Regions from separate parts of the Homo sapiens genome. Here region 1 is linked to region 2. Evidence: fine-mapped expression QTL. Tissue or cell type: whole blood. Region 2 holds a variant in brackets; the other region holds the start of a gene. All regions are shown on one strand. Distances are between the middles of the regions.

Evidence for each region. PIP is the estimated chance that this variant, and not a neighbour inherited with it, causes the effect.
Region 1: it holds the start of FHIP2B, and the variant in region 2 is fine-mapped to the expression of FHIP2B in whole blood (TOPMed, PIP 0.98).

Annotation. Positions count from the first base shown.
Region 1 is chr8:22,087,785-22,090,386 of GRCh38, forward strand. It overlaps FHIP2B (FHF complex subunit HOOK interacting protein 2B), which reads left to right and starts at 1,366. Exons shown (of 17, transcript NM_022749.7): 1 at 1,366-1,514. The coding sequence starts at 1,470. RefSeq lists silencers at 1,256-1,475, 1,536-1,595, 1,786-1,885 and an enhancer at 2,106-2,245.
Region 2 is chr8:22,115,861-22,118,609 of GRCh38, forward strand. It overlaps HR (HR lysine demethylase and nuclear receptor corepressor), which reads right to left. Exons shown (of 19, transcript NM_005144.5): 17 at 1,015-1,179; 18 at 440-568. Among named protein-coding and RNA genes, the nearest start is that of NUDT18, 7.8 kb to the left of the region's middle. The variant G/A (reference allele first, on the strand shown) is at 1,633.

The sequences.
Region 1 (2,602 bases), 28 kb before region 2:
GACCAATGAACCTACCAATTCCGGACACAATATGATGTCAGTGATAAGCAGAGACACTGGTTTTTGTTTCTTAGAGAGACACTATTTTGCTGTCACCCAGTCTGGACTGCAGGGGCACGATCATAGCTCATTGCAGCCTCGAACTCCTGGGTTCAAGTGATCCTCCTCCCACCTCAGTCTCCCGAGCAGCTTGGACTACAGGCACATACCACCACACCTGGTTATTTTGTATTTTTATTTTTTGTCAAGACAGGATCTTCATATGTTGCCCAGGCTGGTCAACAGCCTTGGCCTCCTAAAGTGCTAGGATTTCAGGCTTGAGCCACCACACTCAGCTGCAGACTTTTTTTTTTTTTTTTTTTTTTTTGAGACGGTCTCACTCTGTTGCCCGGGCTGGAGTGCACTGGCACGATCTTGGCTCACTGCAACCTCTGCCTCTCGGGTTCAAGTGATTCTCCCACCTTAGCCTCCACATACCACCACGCTTGGCTAATTTTTTTGTATTTTTAGTAGAGACGGGTTTTCACCATGTTGGCCAGGCTGGTCTCAAACTCCTGGCCTCAAGTGATCAAACCGCCTTGGCCTCCCAAAGTGCTGGGATTACAGGTGTGAGCCACCGCCCACAGCCCATAAACATTTTCTGATAGCCCTGTCAAAAAAGTAAAAAGCAACACGTGAAGTTAATTTTAACAATATACGTTATTTAACCCAACACACCTAATAGTCATTTCAATATGTAATCAATATAAGCCATGGTTGTTGCAGTTTCACACTTTCCTTTCTTACTGTATCTTCCAAATCGGGGTGTGCTTGGCACGGCACATCTTGGTTGGGACCAGCACATTTCAGGAGCTCATCAGCCCATGTGCCTGGGGCTGACTGAGACTTCAATTCAGGAGGAATTGTAATTTCTCTTCGAAAACACCTCCCTTAGCTCCCGCCTTAATCCCAGCTACTCAGGAGGCCCTGGCGGGAGGGTCGCTTGAGGCCAGGAGCTGGAGATCATCCTAGGCAGCACAGTGAGACCTCCCCTCCCAGTAAAAAAACAAAAAAAAAAAACAATTGGCCAGGCGTGGTGGCGCGCGCCTGTGGACCCAGCTACTCTGGAGGCCGGGGTTGGAGGATCGCATGAGTCCAGGAGTTGGAGGCTGCAATGAGCAGAGATCGCGCCACTACACTCCAGCCTGGGCGACCAAGCGAGACCCTGTCTCGGAAGAAAGGAAAGAAAAAAAAAAAAAAAAAAAACACCTCCCAGCCAACTCTCAGGGCCCACCGCTGGCGGTTCCCAGCCCGACTGGGCGCCCCCAGCCGGGGTTAGCCAGCGCCACGCAGCCGGGCCGGGAAGGGGCGGAGCGGCCGGGCCCCGCCCCCCTCGTCGCGCCGGGGCCGCCGGGGCCACGGGGCTGCCTCCTCCGCCTAGAGCGCTGCCGCCGCCGCTTTCGCCCGGGAGCCGGGGGCCGGGCGCCATCATGCTGAGCCGGCTCGGGGCGCTGCTGCAGGAAGCCGTGGGGGCGGTGAGGCCGGCAGGGCCGGGCCGGGCCGCCGGGAGTCGCGGGCCTAGGCCGGGCTGGGCGGGCGCGGAGCCGGGCGCGGCCCGCAGGAGGGCGGGCGGGCGCGGGCCCCCTCGGGCAGGGACCCCCGGGCCGCGGCGCCCCTTCCTCTGCCTCCCCGGCCGCGCCCCGCTTCCCCTCGCTCTTCCCAGTCCCGCTCCCAGACTCCTCCCGACCGCCCCACCTCCCCGGCCTGCTCCCGCGTCGCTTCCTGTCTGTGCGTCCTGGCCCCGGAGTCTCTCCCAATTCCCGAACTCGCCTCCGCCGGGACGCTCCCTGTCACCGCTTGGGGTGTTTCCTGCCCCCCGGGGCCCTAGGCCGCCTCCCCCCAGTCCCGGTGGGCCTGCCTCCTTCCTCCGCTCCACCCCACCGCCTCGCCTGGGCTTGAAAAAATCGCCGTCCCTTCCCCTCGGTCTGATCTCCCAGACAACTCCAGGACCTTGTTGGGGTGCAGGACGCCCTTCCCGTCACCCCGGGACGTGGGAAGTGCAGGCCCTGCCGGTCCAAGTCCCCACGAAGGGTAAAGACCCGGGGCAGGCTGGTGGGCCCCCAGCCGGGGAAATCGCCTTCTATTGGGTGCAGATGTTTCCAGCGTGGCTGTGACCCCTCACAAGCCAAATTGAGTTAGGGACATGCCGCCCGTGGTGGGGCCTGGGTGGCCCTGTGCGGGGAGGAGAGTCCATTGATGTTTCACGTGCCGTCAGTTTGTGTTTTTGCCATTTTTTGTTGGGGCTGCAGGCTGGCAGGCAGCCTACTACTAGGGTTCGTTCAGCAAGATGTAGCGCTGTGTAGGAAGGGTGGGGGTATTCCCGGTAGGGTGGGGGGGGTGCCCGCTGTTGAAAGTAACTCTGCCAAGAAGCTGTCTGTAAAGTCAGCAATACTTCTGCCTCCTAGTATAAATCTTCCCCCAATTGATGAGTTGAGTATCAGATTTTCTCAGGAGAGAAAGTCTTGGGTTTCACCCTCCTTCCTCCCCACCACCTCCTCCCCAACCCTCATGGGAGCTCCTGTTGAAAGAAGTTTGCCTTAGGCAAAGTTGGGAAGAAAGTCAG
Region 2 (2,749 bases):
TGGCTCACACCTGTAATCCCAGCACTTTGGGAGGCCAAGGTAGGTGGATCATTTGAGGTCAGGAGTTCAAGACCGGTCTGGCCAACATGGTGAAACCCCACGTCTACTAAAAATCCCAAAAAAATTTAACCAGGCATGGTGGTGGGCGCCTGTAGTCCCAGCTACTTGGGAGGCTGAGGCAGGAGAATCACTTGAACCCAGGAGGCGGAGGTTGCAGGGAGCTGAGATAGTGCCACTGCACTCCAGCCTAGGTGACAGAACAAGACTCCATCTCAAAAAACAAAATGAAACAAACTAAACAAAAGGAATACTCTGCCCCTGCACAGGGTGGCTGCCTGCTTGGCACAGGGTGGGATCTGCTATGTCCACTGCAGCTGTGGCACAGGGAGGTGGGAGGCTTGGGTAGCACACCCAGCCTGCTGGCCCACATCCCACTCACCTGGGCATAAAGCAGGTGGCAGTCAGGGGGAAGGCTGGGTCCCTGGTGGCAGAGCTGAGCAGAGAGGGCAGAGGTCTCAGGGGAGAGGAAGTGCTGAGTGACGCTGACTGTGCTCACCAGGCCCTGCACCTGTGTCGGGGGGACATGGACAGTGAGGCTCAAGATCACACATCCTCTCCCTGTCCCCCTGGTCCCTGAGGTTCGCTTCCTCTAATGACAACCACCCCCGACCCCTGGCTCTCAGAGAGCAGATTCCTGGATGCACCACTGGACACCTCAAAGCCTGTGGCCAAAACCGGGACTCAGAACTGCTGGAGAGACCCTAAAGTCTCCCTGCGAGCCCCCTGACATCAGCATGCCCAGGAGACCAGGAGTGGACTCTGGCGCCAGTCCCAGTTGGGCTCAGTGACTTCAAGGCCTCTTGGCTCCCCCGTTATCTCTTCCCCACAGCAGCGTGCGGCTCCCTGCCCTGCCCGGCTCTTGGGTATTGAGGGGATGTTGGATGCCTGCGGCCTTGATTGGGTCGCTTCTGCCATCCTGATCTCCCCGCAGAGCCCCTGCCCGCTGGGAAGCACCTGGTGGGGAGCCCCTGCAGGCACCAGCACGGCCTCTCCGGGGGCCTGGAGCAGGGTCCAGCAGCTCACGCCCCACTCCTCCCGCAGGCGCCGCCGCAGCCCTGCATCCAGGTAGCAGCTGCCTGGGGCGCCAGGCTCCAGGGCGCCTGCCCCGGCCGGGCACACCTCAAAGAAGAGAAGGGGGAATGAGCGAGATGGGGAGGGAAGGGCAGGGCTGCAGGAGGATGGGGCATGGACTTTCCAGAGGCCAGGGGTGGAGAAAAGAGCCGAAGGGTCAAGTCTTGAAGGGCAGGCAGGGAGGGCATGGCTGAGTTTGTTTGGGGCTGGGGCAGCTCAGGTTGGCAGAACACACATTTGGCTGGAAGGAGCTTAGAAGGAAGGGATTCAAGGCCCTACAGTTGGGCAGACTGAATCCCTGCTTTTCTGGGGCTGGAGGCCTTTAACAGCCTCTGTGACCTCGGCCCCTCTCCTCCCTCTCTCAATGGTACCCCTTTCTGCAAATCCGAGGGAGACGTCCTGCATAATCCCAGTTCATAAACTGTCTACCAGGACTTCTTCATCTGAAGTCTTTGGAATGGCCAGAATTGTGTGCTAAGTGGTGGATGAGGAGAGAGCTGT[G/A]TGTCCCTGGGGAGACAACTCAAAGTGTTCATCAGGGTCTCCCTAAGATTCCGGATGCAGAAAAGGGAAGGACCACTGCGAGGCTCTGAGTGCCAGCAGGTGAACAGGCTTTCCGGCCAGGCTGAGGCCTCTGCAGCAGCCACAGCTACGGGGACCTCACAAGCCTAACCAGAGCAGGGAGCTCTCTGGGCAGGCAGGGACTCGCAGAGGACAGAGGTGCCCAGGGAACATGTGCAAAGGGGACGCCAGCATCGTGCTCCAACCCACCACCAGCCCAATCCACCCCCTTTGGCAAGGACCTCAGCCATTGCCCCTGGGCTTAGGGCTGCAAGATGGGGCGTGGGGGAAGGGAAGGCTGGTGAAGCAAATTGGACCCTAGGGGAGTCCCAGCTGGGTGCCAAGATTCCTTTGCCCTTGGAGATTCAGCTCCATCCTGGAGCTGAGCAGTGTTTCCCAGGCCACCCAGGGAGACTGTGCCCCTCAGCCCTGCCCCGTGAGTCACTGGGTTGGGCCGTAGTGACTGCCCACGGCCAGCCACACCCAGCCCAGAAGAGGCCATCTGTGTGTGGAGGTGTGCTTGTCTGCTCCCCTCTGCGTGTCCCAGCATCTGTGTGTGTATCTACACATGTGTGTACCTGTGGGCAGGAGGGGTGCACACCATGCTGGCCTCTGCACGTCTCCGTGTGTGTGTGTGCCTTGGCGAGGGGTGACACTAGGTGGAAGTCTTTTCCCCAGGATAATGAGGGCTCAGCTGGACTTGGGAACCACGGGGCTGCCCTCGCCTTACCCCTGGACTCTCTCCTCCCCTGCGCCTCAAGCTTCTTGCCTCCAGCCCACCCCATCACCTTCCCCTTCCCTGGCTCCTCACCTGACCCATCTCTCCCTCCACTTCCCTCAGCCCCCTTCCTTGCTAGCCCCTCCGGGAGCATCTCCTCCAGGCAGTCTCCCCTAACAAGATGCAAATACCAAAAGGTGGGCAGCCGGACGGAGTCTCAGAAGGCAGAGGAGGCTGCCTGCCTCCAGGAAGAGCATAGAGTAGTGACCTGGGGCCATGACAGACAGAAGCTCAGATCCCAGCCCTGCCACTGAGCTTCGGTGTTCTCATCTGCCAATGGGA